4 separate regions of the Homo sapiens genome follow, and all the other regions are linked to region 2. The links come from fine-mapping of genetic effects on gene expression. A gene starts in region 2. Each other region holds a variant in brackets. All regions are shown on one strand. Distances are between the middles of the regions.

Region 1 (4,367 bases), 130 kb after region 2:
GTGATGGGAGACAGTGACAGATTATTAGGCAATACAGCCTCATAGGAAGTGTGCAACAGGCCGGGCATGGTGGCTCACGCCTGTAATCCCAGCAATTTGGGAGGCCAAAGCAGGCAGATCATTTGAGGTCAGGAGTTTGACACCAGCCTGGTCAACATGGTGAAACCCCGACTCTACTAAAAATACAAAAAAAAAACAAAAACAAAAACAAAAAATACAAAAAAAATTAGCCGGGCATGGTGGTACATGTCTGTAGTCCCAGCAATCCATTTTGTTGTTGTTTGTTTATTTTTGGTTGGCAGTATCAACTTGTAAATATCTAGTATATTACCTATCCTCATATGTCCAATGACAATTTTGCCACAAGGATGATGAAAATAATGATTAATGCTTAGTGGTGGCATAGGTTACAGGTGACTTTTCTTCACCAGGACTTCTTATTCCTATGACATTCCAGTCCTTCAGAAAAAGAAAATTCTAGCAGGAATAATCCAACCTTTGGCTCCATTTGTGGCAGGGCCAGCTTCCAGCGGGTTTGGCTGGCTGTCCTGGCTGGGCCTTTCATCTCCAAGGTCTCTAAGCAGACTGGCTTGGGTCCTCACCCATGTAGATTCAGTGCTGGGAAAACAGACTTAAATCCTTTGTGTAAGTTCACTCAGAGATTCCACAAAATGGACTCAGGATCTGTAAAGACTCTTTTAAAAAAATGAATCTTGTTCTGTAAGATTTTTAGCAGCTCCTGTTGCCGTTGTTAATGAGTAAAAGAGTATCATACACACACAATTATATCTGTCATTGGTGCCAAATGCCCTACTTTACCCTGACTCCCTAGAAATTGAGAGCTGCTCCTTTGGAACATGAGTTGGAACATGAAACGTGATATGGCTTATACTGCCATGGGGATAAGGACATGAGGAGTGCAGGTGTGGAGCTTTGTGCAGTCTCTTGGCCCTGTGGCTAACTGACAGGGGTCTGTTCTGGCCAAAGCGAGAGGTGATGGGTCACATTTAACCCTGCCCTTCTCCCAGCCTCAGCACTGAGAAGGCTGAACATCTTCCCCTCTCCACTCCCAAAACTTTTTCCTTAGGAACCAAGACATTAAGAACATTTTGCAGGATGAAAAATTAAATGAACTGAGGTAGGTCAACTGGGATGAATGAATGACATGATTTATGAAATAAAAGAGAATCCAGATAAACAAGAGGATAGTTTTTTCCAAGTGTCCCCACAGAAAGAAATGTTTCTTCTCCTCAGTCTATCATTAAATTCCCGGCACTGCCAACCTGAGAAGAATTTGTATGAGGACCAGTAAGTCAGATGGTGGTGGTAGGCTACTTGGGGCTGGCTTCACTTTGTTTTGCTTTCCTAAGAAAACAAAGCAATAAGAAAGGCAGCAGGCTGTGCTGGAGTGGATGCAAGAACCTTCAGTCCCAGACCAGGCTCTGCCACTCACAGCCTTCTTTGAATCTCAGGTTTCTTTGCTTCTAAAATTGTTCACTTCCCAAACTGGTAAGATAGAATACAATATTTTATATTGTATAGAAGTCAGAGTTTATAGAATATTTTATGTGTATTTAATCCTTACAACATGTAAAGAAGGTACTATTGTCTTTATATAATAGAAATGAAAACTGAGGAGAACCTATGTATCTTATCCAAGATATGTAACAGTGAAATTAAGCTGGAAGCCAATTTAGATCTCTAAACTCTGAGTTGAGTGTGGGCTTGTTCTCTTCCTCCTTTTTATGAGCTAGATTTATTATTATTATTATTATTGGGATAAAATACACATAACAGAATATTTAGCATTTTAACCATTTTTAAGTATGCAGTTCAGTGGCATTAGGTACATTCACATTGTTCTGCCACCCTCACCACCATCCATCTACAGAATTTTTTCATCACCCCAAATTAAAACTCCATACCCATTAAACAATAACCCCTCATTCTCCTCTCCCTGACCTCCTGGCAGCCAACATTCTACTTTCTGTCTCTATGGCTACTCTAGGTACCTTATATAAGTGGAATCCTACAGCATCTGCCTTTTTGTGACTGTTTCATTTTCACTTAGTATAATGTCCTCAAGATTCATCCATGTTGTAACATGTATCAGAATCTGCTTTCATTTTAACGGTGAATGATATTGCATCATATATTCCAATGTGGTTTATATTACACTGTATTTATCCATTCATGTGTCAATGGACATTTGAGTTGTTTCCATCGTTTGGCTATTGTAAGTAATGCTGCTAAAATGTGGTCTACAAATAACTGTTCAAGTCCC[T/C]GCTTTCACTTCTTTTGGGTATATACCCAGAAGTGACATTGCTGGATCATATGATAATCCTACATTTAATGTTTTTATTTCTCCTTTTAAAATAGGTAAAGTCAGCTGATAAAAATAATTTCCCGCCTCTTGTTACTTATATCGGAAACTACCTCTTATTCTTTTTAAAAAATGGTTATGGTATCCCTTTGATGCTGTGGCCTAGCTGGGTCATTTAACTGCTAGTGATAAAAGCCATGCCTTGTATTTATTTTGTGCTCTGCTTCTGCATGCAAAGCATCACATCAAAGTTATCTCATTTACCTTTTCAAGGTTTATGAGAAGAGGATCCAAGGCAGGTATTATTAACTCCATTTTACAAATGACAAAAATAGGCTGCAAAAGGTTAATAGATTTTCTTCAGTGAGATTATAGTAGTAATGAAATGAAAATCCAGCTTTCTAACTCTTCATTTAAAGTTTATTCACACAAGTTTTCTGTATACTTAAATGGAACATATTGTCAGATAATTAATTTGATTCTTATTTGATACTTATAAACTTAGAAAAGTCTCCAAATTTCCATGCCTGTTCCCTCATCTATAAAATGACACGGATACTACTAACCTATGGAGCATGTAAGGAATTACCCAACACAAATAGCAGCAAAGCAAGTCACAAAATTGGGGAGTACTAGGAAATCATTAATGACTCAACTATCTATTATTTAGTGAATATTACTAAAGCAGAATCTTAAATGAAAGTACTGAAATTGTTTCCCTGAAATTTCAATGTGATGCTGAAAATTAGTTTGAAAACATGAAAGTTTGAAAAAAAAAAAAAAGTTAGGTAAACCTGAGAATGTTCTCATGGCTGTGTGCTTCTTCCATTCAAGTGGCAGGGCCTTGTCCTGTCTTGGGTGGGCTAATGGTTTAAGACAGATGTTAGGGATCTGGGCATTTTCATGCTTCAGGATCTTTGCTGATAACTTCTCTCTGATTTACATGCCTTTCCACCTCTCATGAATTTAACTTTCATGTCCCTCTCAATGTGACATCTTATCCACTATGACTTCTCTGTTCCCTTATCCTAATTGTTCCTTCCTCTGTGTTCCCAATCCATATGTGCTTTCTTCAGCATATGTACTTTTTTTTTTTGAGATGCGGTCTCACTCTGTCATCCAGGCTGGAGTGCAGTGACTTGATCTTAGCTCATTGAAGCTTCTGTCTCCCAGGTATATGCGATTCACCTGCCTCAGCCTCCTGAGTAGCTGGGATTACGGACATGAGCCACCACACGCAGCTGATTTTTGTATTTTTAGTAGAGATGGGGTTTCACCATGTTGTGCAGGCTGGTCTCAAAACTCCTGCTCTCAAGTGATCCTTCCACCTAGGCATCCCAGAGTGCTGGGATTACAGGTGTGAGCCACCATGCCCGGCCAGCATATGTACTTATAAGATCATGTTTTAGTTTGTGGTTTTTCTCTCTCTTCTCCTTTATGCTGTGAACATCTTGTGGGCAGCCTCCATCTCATTCATTGTTTCCTTGATGCTTGTCATAGTGCTCAGCATATAATGCACACTCAAAAAGTATTTGCTAAATTTTAAAAGGTAAAATCATATGAACAAACAAAGAAGTCAAGATTGATTTTCCAGGACATGCAAGTCCTTGCACTGACACGGGAGTCTCCTTCCCCTTGCAAAAGCAATGCCCTTGTTCTCTCCCCTTTCTTCTTCCTCCTCAAGGTTGTTCTTAACATCACTCTGCTTCCTTTCATTTCAAGTAGAGAACAAGCGTTAGAAATGAGGCGCACTGATTTGGAAAGGCTGACCTCAGGTTTAAAGTCAGGGAGGGTGATAAGACAGAAGGCAGCATTATGCTGGAAACCTCCTAGCAGGTCCTTAATCCTGGAGCTGAGGGTGCTAAGAGAGATTTGGTTGCTGGTATAATATTCTGGGTTGCATCAAAATTACCTGGATATTTAAAAATGAAATGAAACAAAACAATAACAAGAAAATTCTAGGGCCCTTATGGGGTCAGAATCTTTAGGGATGGGGCTGGGACCTTGATGGGTTTAACAAGCCTTCCAACTAATTCTGAGGCAC
Region 2 (4,367 bases):
TGTAGGGGTCAAAACTAAATCAAGGACAAATCCCTACCCTCAGAAGAAACTCGATCCTGCCTGGATCCTCTAGAGGCTCTGGCATCACCCACCTCCAGAAAAATCATCTCTCACGACCCTAGCTACACCTTCCTAAGAACTGCAGTATTACACCAATGATACACCACCTGCACAGAAATAGCAAATAATTGCAAATGGGAAAGAGAGTGGGAGAGGGCAGAACAAACACTTTAATCAGTACAGCATATTTAGATCTGGCACCTACATCAGAATAACACTGATGCAACAATATTTATACCAATTGAAAATGCTGGGGCAGTGAACACTTCTGTTCCGATTCTTTTTTAACACGGTCCACCTACCTTCAATACAATTTAAAGTAATTACAAACAATTTGAAAAATCAACATGGGCAGGGAACAGTTTTCTCATTGTGTTACTGAGGTGTGGGCAAGTTATCCACAACAGGCAATTAGACCCAGAGATGTTCTGAAATAGAGGCATTCTGAGATTTAGCGGCTGAGAGTTTCAGCAACAGGAAGAAATAACAGAAATCATGCAACTTCTGTATCATTCCACGTACTTTGAAACTTCAGATACAATGGAAAGAAAAGAGGGGGGAGGGCAGAGAAAAAGGACAGTTGTCTCAGCACTCACGAAAAGGATGCTTTCTCAGGAGATGGTTCTGAGACCGGCCTCAATTTTCAGAAGGAACGCGCCTTTACTGGTTATCTTGCACCGTGTATTTAAAAATTGCATGCTCTTCAAAATAAACAAAAGCTCAGCTACTGTAGCTGTGAGATCTGGCAGGCATTTGTTCCTCCTCCCCTCCTAAAGCACATCAAGAAAACGTTCTCCCTTTAAAGCCTTCATACAGTTTCAGCAACTAGAAAAACAAGCCCACATCTGTCTCTCACGCCCACCACCCCCACCTTCCTACAGAAACAACCCCGAGAAACACTAACAAAGACAGGGAGCAGAGTAAAGGAACAGTTGTTCAACCGCGAACTCACGAATACACATGCAGTGAGGCAATCGACTCCGGTAAAGGGAAAGGAACGAGACACCAGGAGACGCAGCGGGTGTAGGCGGAAGAGGGGGAAAAAATTACGCGCCGCCGCCAAACCTTTGAATAAATTAGAGGGGATCTCGGTGCGAACTTTCCTTGACCTCGACCCCAAAGAGGCTTGCTGGGGCCGAGAAGAAAACCCGTGCGGGATGTGGAGGGGCCCGGGGCGCCGGGGTCCCCCGCCCGCGAGACCCGCTCCACCAGGCGCCTTGGAGAGCAGCGCCAGCGGTCGTCCTCCAGCTCCCGCAGGGGTCGCCCCGCCGGCGCGGGGGACACAATGGGTCCGCGGGCCACGCGAACGGGCCTCGGCCCGGCGGCAGCACGGGAGAGATGTGAGGAGCGCGCGGAAGGGGAGCGCGGCCGGGGAGATCCCAGCGCGGTCAGGCCCGGGAGCCGAGGCTCGGGGGCCCGGGAACTGGGCTTCCCACAGCAGAAGACCCAACAAAGACACCAGGGGAGCCCGGCGGGCTGGGCGCGAGAAGACGTGGTAGCAGGTTCGCTCCTCCGAGCAGACGGGAGGCGCCATCATGGGGGGGGGGGGTCGCGGCCCGCCCCGCGCAGAAAGAGCCCCCTTCCCGCCGCTGCCCGCGCCCCCAGCCCAGCACGACCGCGGCGGCCCCACGCGTGCAGAGACGGCGGCGGCGGCGCTGGAAAGCCCGGGGCGCCGAGGGGAGGGCTGGGACGCGGCATGAAGGGAAAGTTCGGTTCGGGTCTGTTTCGTTTTACCGGGTTGGCGGCGCGCCCGTCCGTGTGGGAGCACGAGTGGCCGGGCGAGCGGGGTCTCGCGGCCCGGGTCCGGACGGCCGGGCGCTGCGCCACTCTCCGCTCCCCGAGCCTCGGCCCGGGTTGAGCCGCTCGGCCTCTCCTTTCTCCGCCCGCCCGCCTGCTTTCTCCTGGAGCCTGGATTGATCTGGTCGCGCTGGCGTCAGGGAGTCGGAGCTGCCCAGCCTCCACTCCTCAGCTGCCAATACCCGGCGCACTCGCCTGCCCGCCCGCCCGCTCACACGCTCACCCGCTCACCCGCGCGCCGCCGCCGCTGCCGCGCGACCAGGGATCCTCTCCAAATTCCCGGCCCGGCCGGCGTGAGCGCAGCGCGGCCGGGGCCGGAGGACGGCGCGGGGGAGCGGCCGGAGCCACCCCCTTCTACCGGCAGCCCCACGCCCCGTTTCTTCCTGGAGAAAAAACAGTGTGGCGGCGTTCAGGCTTTCCTAACCCTGCCTTTTTAGTCCCGGTGGAGCGGACTTAGTCCATTATCTGCAAGTGAATTTCGATGTTCCATATGTTTATTTTCTGAAATGTTCATTAACGCTTCCACCGCGCCCACTGAATCGTTCTATAAACGTGGAGTGCATGTTGACAGTTACCTTTCGAGACGCGCCCTTTTATGTCTATCTTTCGTTGCCCCTCACTCACTCTCCAATAATTTGCAGGCCCCAGAAGTTGTACGTACCCAGAATTGGATAGCCTAGTAAATACTGCACGTGGTTATACAAACCCTGAGTCAACAGATGCGTTTTGTGTCAACTCAGGATCCAGTGATTCGAGTAGGTAACCTTGTTGCTCCAAATAATGGCATGCCATAAGGAGATACTGCTTTAGAACTCCACATTTTTGGTCCAATTTCTACAGTCTTTTAGATGATGCCAACTCCCCCGCACTTAACTCTTACCTACCTGATCTGCATAGACATTGAAAATATCTTCTTGCAAGAGTCAACTTTTCTCTTGGCTAACTCTTGAAGCTGCATAAAATCTTGCATAATTACTATAATGTTGAGTTACGTTTAGAAAAAATGATTTTTTTTTGAGGAATAAATTTCACATGAAGCAAAAAAAAAAAAAAAAAAATCACTCCCAGCAATGTATATCAGAATATGTCTTCTAATTAAATTCCTTTTTCCCTTAACCTATTTGAGCACTTACTGGTCAATTCGTGGGCCTCATCTTATTTTCCCTAAAAGCAGCGTTTGACGCAGTTGATCATTCTCTGCTCCTTAGAACAACAGGAAAGTGAACCTTGTTAAATGCCACTCGGATCAGGCCACTCCTCTGTTGAAAACCCTCCCTTGATAAATAGTATAAAGTATCCCATACAAGAGAACATTATTCAGCCATAAAAAGGAATGAAGTACTGATACTGATGCATGCTACATGGATAACCTTTCAAAACGTGAAGGGAAAGAAGACAGACCACACATTGTATTCTTCCACATATGTGAAATGCTCAGAGTAGGCAAGGCTATGGAGACAGAAAGTAGATTGGTGGTTTGCATAGGGTTGGGGAAATGAGGAACCTGGGGAGTGACAGCTAAAGGTTATGGGGTGACAAAATTGTTCTAAAACTAGTTTCTGGTGATGGTTGCACAACTCTGTGCATATACCAAAAGCCATTAAATTGCACACTTTAAATGGGTCAATCATTTGGTATGTGAATTTTACCTCAAGCTATTAAAAAAAAAGCATGACAATGAAATGCAGTATATGACCTTGATTGGATCCTGAATGGGGAGGAGGAGCTATAAACTGTCATTTTAAAGTCGTTAATTTTTAAAAAAATCAAAAATGGCATTTATTTAATTTTGAGACGGAGTCTCGCTCGGTCGCCCAGGCTGGAGTGCAATGGCACGATCTCGGCTTACTGCAACCTCTGCCTCCCGGGTTCAAGCAATTCTCTTGCCTCAACCTCTCGAGTAGCTGGGACTACAGATACACACCACCACGCCCATCTAAGTAGAGACGGGGTTTCACCATTTTGGCCAGGCTGGTCTCAAACTCCTGGCCTCAAGTGATCCACCCGTCTCAGCCTCTCAAAGTTCTGGGATTACAGGCATGACCCACCGCGCCCAGCCTAGATGGCCTTTCTTAGTGCAGTCCTAGTAGTCTTAAATGATAACTATTAATATTATTATGTATGCAATAAAATTTGATTTTGCCCATTGTGCAAATTATTTCCTTAAATGATAATAAAAATTTGGATATTCTTTTTAAAAGGACATTGATGAGACCATTATAAAAACCTAAATATGGACTGTATATTAATATCATTTTATTAAATTTTTAAAAAATCCTCCCTTGGGTCCTCATTTCACTCAGAATAAAAGTTCCCATAATAAGCACAAGACTCTACATAATCTTTCCTTCCCCTCCTTTAGCACTCTGACCTGCACTTCTACTCTTCCTCTTGCTCACTTCCCCAAGTCACACTGGCATCCTCACTCTTCTGGAACAATCTGGGCACATTCTCACCTCAGTATCTATGTGCTAGCTGTTCCCTCCCTTTCTGAGTTCATTTTGTGTTGC
Region 3 (4,367 bases), 30 kb after region 2:
AAATTATAGAGAGAACAGCAGAAAACTTCTTTCCCCACATTCTCTATTACTTTCTCAACCCACAAAAGGAGAAAAATATACAATCTAACCCACAAATGGAGGAAAATATACAATCTGGAATAAATCTTAAGGTGTCATCTCCTTTGTCTGTCATCTTTAATGTGCTAGAATATCTGGCATTAGGCCCAGAAAATTGAGATTTACTTCCACTTCTCAAAGATCTCTATTTCCTCTACAAAGGAATACTCATCAGTAAGGCAATGCTCTTGGCTCAATTTAGCTTAAAGGGACTTAGACTGGAGCCCTCCATTACAGAAGCTTTCTCCCCTGTGTATTTGTATTAATGTATTCTTTCCTCTTGACAATCTTCTCCCAGAAAATTTCTCCCTCCCTAATAGTGTTTTTGGTGGACAGACATTAACCATCATCAGTCTTCAATCCTACTTTGCAGTATTTAGATATTCTGATGTCCCTTAGTTCACTAGATTCATCGGTTTGTTCAGTAAATATTTACTGAGCATCTACCAGGCCCTGGTATAGGTCAATAAGCAACACAGAACTCTTCCTTTCATGGAACTAACATCCCAGTGGCTCTTGCAAATATCCTGTGAGATGGCTTCAAACAGGCAGCATGGTAGTGTGTCCTAAACAAGCGGAAAAAAGAATCAGACTAGTACATGCAGGTTTCCTCTTCACGAAGCTCTCATTCCTGTCCTCTGGGTCCATTTTTCTCATAGGTAGGTTGTGCACTCTGCTTCTTACATTCTCAAAAACAGTGCACTGAACTGCAGGTGTTGTGGGAATACATTTAAGAAATGTTAAAAAAGACCATAGGGGAAATGACTCACTTTGTAGAAATTCACATCAATAGTGTATCTGGAATGATCCACTTTGCTAGCTTGGAATACAAACACAATTGCCTCATATTTATTTATTCAATTTATTACCTGCCCTTAGTGATAGGAAGTCCACTTATTTCCTAAGGCCTCCCTCAGCCAGCCTGCTTGGGTAAGAACACTAGGAACTTACTCAGTTCAAAGGCGATCAGTCCTGCAAAAAGCCAGGACGAGAGAGAAATCTGGGAAGTATGAACAATCCACTAACACCTTGGCTTGGTCTCTGTCACATGAGGTTAAAGATGGGTCCCGCACATTCTGATATCAGGACATTTGTTTGTGGCTGCTGTGATGCTCCTACTGATTCAGCTCTCTTCTTCCCATCACCCTGCCAGTGTCCCTCTGGAGCTCTGAGACCACATCTATTTTAGGTCACATTCACACACTCATCAATTTTTTCCCTTCAATGCTTAGCACCAAGCCAGGTGGGCCAAAGCTAGAAAAGAACTCAATCCCAGCCTCTTGTCATGCTGGAGCACATAAGTCTTCTCCATAAATCCTTCTTTGGTCTGTCTTAGCATCTCTTCCTGCCACTGGACTACCTCGGCATACCCCAACAATGAATCTCCCTGTTGCATGCAAAGGAGAAAGCCAGATGTTGTTAAGCAACAGACACATGCTCATTTTGGACACCTACACCTACACACAAACTCTCACAGGCAAAGATTGTCTGTTTGCCTTACATTTTCACAACTTGGAGGGTCTTTGAAATGATTTTCCTACAGTGAAGCAATATGCTTCAGGGAACTGTTTTTGGCTGACAGTAAAAGAAATGGAAGCTCATGACAACACTAACTTTTCATAGAGAAAGGTCTGCTTCTAGCACTATGGATGTTGAGTGAGACCAAGTCATCATTACGTAGGGCTTCATTATTCATGAGGGGAGGGCTACATTGTTTGCTTCTCTCCCATCACATGGTATTTTTACTAAACATTAGCATTTTAATAACTGAGGAAAATATGAATGAGAATATGTTAGTGTGCCATTTGTGGTGGCTTTTAGAAAACATGATGTTGGACAAATGAAAGTCAATGATGATGGTGACATAAGATTTCCTGGGCCACCTATTTGAAGGCTCCTTTCTCCTTCAAACACCTCATTGTTCTGCTACTTTCAATAACACTACATGAACTGCAGAATTAAATCAGAAATCTTTAGCCAGGCATTCAAAGTCTTCTGCAATCTAGGACTTACCCACCTGTTCGTCTTAATTTATCATTATCTTTCTAACTAAATTCTGAGCTTTGGCTGTATTTGTTTACTCACTAGTTCATGAACTTACCATGCACAGTTTTAAAGATAAACTTTAATTTGGAATAATTTTTAGATGTACAGAAAAAAATATGAAGTTGGTACAGAGAGTTCCTATATGTCTACTCTTTATCCAGTTTCCCCTAAAGTTAACATCTTACATTATCATGCTACATTTGTGAAAGTTAAGAAAACAATGTCGGTATATTACTTTTGACTAAACATCAGTTTTCATACTACAGTCCTTTCGCTGTTTCAGG[A/G]TCCTATCTAGGATAACAAATTATATTTAGACCACGCATCTTTTTTGTTTCTAGTCTCTGTTCATTGCATTTTCCCCCCAGGATGCCCTTTTCTCTCCTTTCATATTCTCCAAGGTCCATTCATGTCTTATCTCTGCAAGCTTTTCCTAATTGCTCCTGTCCTCTGTGATTTTTCTCGTCTTCAAATTGCAGAACCACTTTTGTCTGGATCACATATTTGGAACACAGCATACACTGACCTGCATTATTATATATCTTTTTATATTTTGTTTGCCAATTAGCTTTTAAGGAAAGGATAATATCTCATTCATTTTCTCATCTCTGGCACATGTGCAGGCATTGTGTTCTGTAAATATTAATGGAATTATTAGAGGCCTAAGGCTACTACATTTATATTTTATAATATACTAAATATGAATATAACTTGACAAATCATAATAACTAATATTTATTGAGTGCCTCCCATATGACAGGCACCTTAAAGGCTTTAGATGTAGTTTTAGAGTTAATTCTTTTAATTTGTCCCTCGATGTTTTTACTCTGTACACTGGGCTGGGATTTAGAAGCTATTTTGCATCATGTCCTGTCTCTTTACTCTCTGAGGGCAGGAACTTTATATCTTCCTGCCCAGAACTAAAAGGTGAATGTTATAGAACACAGTGCCAACTATTTATTTTTCTTCCTTATGACAATATATTCTCTTATAATTTTTTAAATTATAAAAGAAGTTTATGCACATGAAGAAATTCTGAAGTGTACATATATAGTAAGAGATACCTTCTTCAATTTTTCCTTCCAATTCATCAAGATCAAATTGTTTAAAATTTTGAACTTGACACAGGTTGTTAAAAATTTGAATATTTTAAATTATAAATAAACACATATTCATGATCTTAAAAATTTCAAACTCCAATTATACAGAAGAATAAATACAAAAAAGAAATCTCCATGAGTCCTACTTTTCAGAGGAAACCACTTGTGAAAGTTTACTATTATAAAACCTCCAGGAGTTTTCTATGCATATAAGCTTTTCATGTTTTATTTTTGGCAGGAATGGAATCCGGGCATATCTGATCCTGATATTTCCAAGGTGTTCCTAGACACCTTCTGCTGCCTTGGACATCATTACCTGTTATTTCCGCGCCCCCCCCCCCCCCCCCCCAACGCCCATTCTAGCCAATCTAGTTTTCCTGGGCACAAACCAATCCTTCCCCTTTTTCAGGCTTCCTCTTTCTGACTCCAAACAGTAAGTTTTTCTAGGATTTTTTTTTTCTTTCCCTGCATGTTTTCATCCTCAGAGTTTATCCATTCTCTGGGTTGGTTACCATTTTCTCTTGCTCTATTTTCTTATGGTCAAACTTCTTTTTGGAGTTTCCCAATCCACACTCATTCCTTAGCCCTCTGAAATCTGACTCACATACACTACTCCAATAAAATTATATTTGAAGATTCCTGAGACATCACGGAAATTATTTTAGCTCCTACCCCTATGGGCTTCTGGGTACCATTAACTCTTCTTTCTCCTTCTAGAAGCACTCTTCCTGGCTTCAGAGGCATTGCAAAATCGTAGTGCTAATTGTACCTTTAGGATTGGCACCTCCCCTACTGACCTCTATGGGGTCTCTTGTTCCCCTTCTCTTTCTCCAGCCCACACCCCCTCCATCTCTTTGGGGAATTTTTCAGCTCCCCAAACCTCAAACACCATCTAACTCCATCTGTCCAACATAAACTAACCTTTCTTAAATTCTAGTCCCACACTTCCAACTCTCTGCAGGTCATAGTCACAATTTTACTTCAGCATTAACAGCTCAAAACTTAAAACTCATCCGCTTGATTTTTTATTTTTGTTAATGGTACTGCCACTCTTTTGGTCACCTAGGTAACATATTGGTCATTTTTCTCTCCAGTGACCTTTGAATCTCATCACTGTTTCTCCCATAAGTTCCACTGCTACATGTT
Region 4 (4,367 bases), 55 kb after region 2:
AATGATTAATCTAGATAGTTACATTTGGGGTAAAAGCAAGATGAGAATATTGGTCCTGCTTTTGTTGCAGTTTTGAAAGACAGTTTCAAAGGAGGAGTGCCAAAGTTTTGCCAAGTGATCGCGGTATCCATTGAAATGAATATGTAGTCTGTTGCACTCACTTTAAAGAGACAAACACTAACTGAGTACGATCTGATGCTTACTAGAAAAGACATAAAATTCATTATATTACAGGCATAGCTCATTTAGCCTTGATTCTACCTCTCTTTTAAGTAGTGATTCAAGCGGCAAATCATCGAGGCTTCTTCTCAGATAGTTTTGCCTATATCAATATCATAGCTGAGTGTACTTTTGAGTTGTAATATAGTTAGTTGCTTTGAATACTAATTTGAAAACTAATTTAAAAATCTGTTATGTAGGCACTATTTATGCTTTTTTGGATATTATTACACTAATGCAACTGTCTAACATTGAAAATGAATAAATAAATGTTTAATAGTTACTTCAAGTAATATAACTGTAGAATCTGGGTTTATAAATACAAAGCTATTCATAGATTTATTGCCATGATACAAGAAAGATACTGAATGTCAAGATGTCTGGGTTTAATTCCAATTAGAACTGCTGTGTGACTGTGGAGGAATGGTAATACCCTCTGCTCTATCTTTCTCTCATTAAAAAAAATTACATTATGCATCACATATCTTGATGGCAGAACCTCACTGTTTTCTGATAAAGTACTATCTGAAACTGCTTGTTTAGTTTTTAACTCAGATATTGCTGGAGCTGTGAGAAAATAATACAATGTTTTGATAGCGAAGGCTTTTCCTTTACCCTGTATTTGAAATAAGGAAAAAAATATACAAGTGCTATCTTGGAATTAATCGAGTAAGTGTTGTCAAGAAGAATGTGAAACATTTGCATAGATAGCCTTAGCATTTACAAAGATATTTATCCTGCTAGGAGAAAGAAGCTATTGGGTGTCTAAGGGAGAGAATGCAGTCATGGATTCTTAGTTTCTGCTTCTGGTTGGGCCAGTAAATCCCCTTTCTCATCCCTCTTTTAAGCTTATCACCAGACAGAAACAGAAAACCATGGCTTCAGGCTGTTAAAAGCCTAAAACAAAACAAAACAGAACAAAAACAACAAAATAAGTCGGGTTAAACAAGCTTGTGTGCCTCAAGTAAAACATAAAACGTTATCAAATGTAAAGTTTCCTTTATAAATATATGTTATAGACAACTTATAATAAATTGAACACAGAAATTATTCTATTCATTTATACCTATGACCTAGAGTATATAACAGAGCTAAGCTTTAAAAAGTGAAAAACCATTGAAAACGATAGAGGTGTTAAAGAGAGAGAGAGAGATACAAAAAGTGAAAGACCAATTGTCCAACTTCCCAAGTCATCCAGCATATTAATGTAATCATTTAAGATTCATATAGCTAACAGCTTCATTGTTTATTCCCAAAGTACACAATACATGCTTTGTTCTACATGTATGGTCTAGTTCCTATAAGCATTGCTATTGGCATTCTTTTTTATAAAATATTTTCTAAATCCCTTGTGTAGGATCTATTTTATTTTTGCCAGTCGATTAGTTTGCAACCAAAAAAGATGACTACCAATAAGCAATGCTTATGGTCGATGCCTTTGAAAGACAGCTAAACACACATACACACAGAAAAATAATTAACTGATCATCTGTTATTTTCTTTCCAATTTGGGCTTGGTTAAAAAGACAGACAGTACATAGCAGTGACCAGCTGCTGACAAGCAAAGTTCAGCAAACATTTAAAGGCAGCCAAAATGTTTACAACTTTTCTTTTGTAATATTTAACTATGAAATTGCAAAATGAGTGACAAAATATATAAGAAAAAATATAGCTAATGGAATATAATCTTAATTAAGATAGGTTAAATTATGGTACCATAAAAATACATGCCCCCAGAATCAAGTTTTATCTTTAAGGTTAAAAATTCACTTCTAGGAATTCAGTCTGATGCCAGCAATCCAGTCTTTTTAGATTTTTGTATCCAGACTTTAATAGACCACTGTATAAGGGCTTCTGAACAACAGATATTAATTATAATCCTTAATTATACTCAGGCTGTACTTCATCATTTTTATTCTCTCAACTTTCTGGATGCTCAGCTGAAAATGCAAGAATTAACAGGCTCTGAGACTTATTGGTAAATTATTATCAAAGATCATTGAGTATCTTTTGAGTGTAAACAGCAATCTGTTCACTGATTTCTATAAATGTTTGCAGCACTCACTATATGCTCAGCATAGTCTCTGTGGATATAGCTATATGTACAAGACATGCTGCTTTCCCCAAAGAAGTTGCCATATAACAATACACAAATGCTTTCATCTAAAATAACTAAATAATAGTGCTTTGTGCAAAAGGAGATTTTTACAGCTCTGTTTTCACTTATCAGTTTGAAG[A/G]TATGCTTAGAAGTGTTAAGCATTTACTAGATACTAACTGAAGATAGGAAATTCTTCTTTTTTCTTTTCTTTTTTTTTTAATTGAGACAGAGTCTTGCTCTGTCACCCAGGCTGGAGTGCAATGGCGTGATCTCAGCTCACTGCAACCTCTACCTCCCAGATTCAAATAATTCTCATGCCTCAGCCTCCCAAGTGGCTGGGATTACAGGCATGTGCCACCACATCTGGCTAATTTTTTTTTTTAAGTAGTGATGGGGTTTCACCATGTTGACCAGGCTGGTCTTGGACTCCTGGCCTCAAAAATCTGCCTGCTTCAGCCTCGCAGTGTTGGGATTACAGTCATGAACGACTGCATCCAGCCTAGAGAAAGGAAATTCTATCTGTGGGATTTGAGCAAGGAAACTATGCTAGATATTTGCAAGTGAAGATCTAAACGTCTAGTAGCTAACATCAAAACTTCTTCCAGTAGTGCAGGCATAGCACGCAGGAGTACAGTCGTAGAAACTGCCAAACATTTTATGCAAATTTAGTGACTGTGGTGGTATAGAAACAGGAAAAAAATGGTTGATATAAAAACATCTTATTGTATTTAAGACAAAAATTTGGAACCTTCAAGACACAGTCAATTTTTGTTTTCTAATAATAAAATTATATCTTTTGCCTAATTGTATCAAACAACAGTTTGACCCAGTTGGAATTAACTTAATAATAAGTTCTAATATTTTCCTAGTTGATTAATTATTTCCCATACTTCAGATACATAAAACAACTCTTCAACAGTTGTTCAAACAACATTAAAGTCTCTACCTCCTTAACATGATGGAATAATAAGAATCAGATTTACTTCCCCATCTTTAAACAAATATAAAGCTGGACAAAATATAAGTTTTGCAGTTTTTGTAGAGACAGGGTTTCACCAGATTGCCCAGGCTGGTCTCAAACTCTTGTACACAAGCAATCCACCTGCCTCCGGCTCCCAACGTGCTGGGCTTACAGGCATAAACCACCATGCGCGGCCTAATATATTTATAATTGGAGTACCAGAAAAGGTAGGTTGGGGAGGGAAGAAAAATTACTTGAAAAAATTAATGGTCACAACTTTCTAAATTTGATGAATTTGATAAATTTGATGAAAATGATAAACCCACAGATTCAAGAAGCTCAACAAACCCCAAGCAGAAAACATGAAAGAAACAACACAAAAGCACAGCACGACCAAATGCTGCAACCTAGTAATAAAGAGTAAATCTTAAAAGTGAAACAGAAATATTACATATGGAAAAGTAAAGATGTATTAGTCAGCTCAGGCTGCCTAATAAAATACCACATAATAGGTGGCTTAAACAGCAGAAATTTATTTAAGCAATAATAATAACAAAGGAATTTTGGTCAGGTTCTGATGAAAGCTCTCTATCTGGTTTGTAGATGGTTGCCTTCTTGCTGTGACCTTACATGGCCCTTCCTTAGTGTGTATACATGGAGACACACACACACACACACACACACACACACACAGAGAGAGAGAGAGATAAAGAGAGAGAGAGACATATCTCTCTTTTTCTTTTTACAAGGCCACCAATCCTATAAAATTCAAACTCTGCTCTTATGACCTCATTTAATCTTATTTACTTCCTAAAAGCCCTGTCTCCAAATACAGCCACATTGGGGTTTAGGGCTTCAACATATTAATTTGGGGGTACAGTGTGTGTGTGTGTGTGTGTGTAAAATTTAGCCTATATCAAAAGATAAACATAACAAACAGTAGCCTTCTCGTTAAAAAATGTGAGCCAAAACAGCAGGGTGACACTCTGAAAAAGTCTTTATATGTACATAAAAGCTGAGAAAATTTATTTCCAGTAACTGGCACTACAAGAAATTTGAAAAGAAGTCCTTTAGACAGCAGAAAAAAAG

Which allele goes with the higher level. Positions count from the first base shown, and alleles are read on the strand shown. Sizes are in standard deviations (SD) of each study's normalised expression. Not every link is listed here.
In carriers of allele T in region 1, the expression in lung of the gene that starts at base 1,980 in region 2 tends to be higher than with C alone (small effect, 0.23 SD a copy in GTEx).
As copies of A replace G in region 4, the expression in fibroblasts of the gene that starts at base 1,980 in region 2 goes up (small effect, 0.24 SD a copy in GTEx).

Evidence for each region. PIP is the estimated chance that this variant, and not a neighbour inherited with it, causes the effect.
Region 1: its variant is the best candidate, but not a certain one, in a credible set for the expression of SMAD1 in lung (GTEx, PIP 0.78).
Region 3: its variant is the best candidate, but not a certain one, in a credible set for the expression of SMAD1 in whole blood (TOPMed, PIP 0.51).
Region 4: its variant is the best candidate, but not a certain one, in a credible set for the expression of SMAD1 in fibroblasts (GTEx, PIP 0.54).

The regions. Positions count from the first base shown.
Region 1 is chr4:145,349,135-145,353,501 of GRCh38, reverse strand. No RefSeq gene overlaps it. Among named protein-coding and RNA genes, the nearest start is that of LINC02266, 11 kb to the right of the region's middle. The variant T/C (reference allele first, on the strand shown) is at 2,285.
Region 2 is chr4:145,479,466-145,483,832 of GRCh38, reverse strand. It overlaps SMAD1 (SMAD family member 1), which reads right to left and starts at 1,980. Exons shown (of 7, transcript NM_005900.3): 1 at 1,795-1,980. RefSeq lists silencers at 1,162-1,261, 1,352-1,411, 1,752-1,911, 2,082-2,211.
Region 3 is chr4:145,449,188-145,453,554 of GRCh38, reverse strand. No RefSeq gene overlaps it. Among named protein-coding and RNA genes, the nearest start is that of SMAD1, 30 kb to the left of the region's middle. The variant A/G (reference allele first, on the strand shown) is at 2,409.
Region 4 is chr4:145,424,805-145,429,171 of GRCh38, reverse strand. No RefSeq gene overlaps it. Among named protein-coding and RNA genes, the nearest start is that of SMAD1, 55 kb to the left of the region's middle. The variant A/G (reference allele first, on the strand shown) is at 2,457.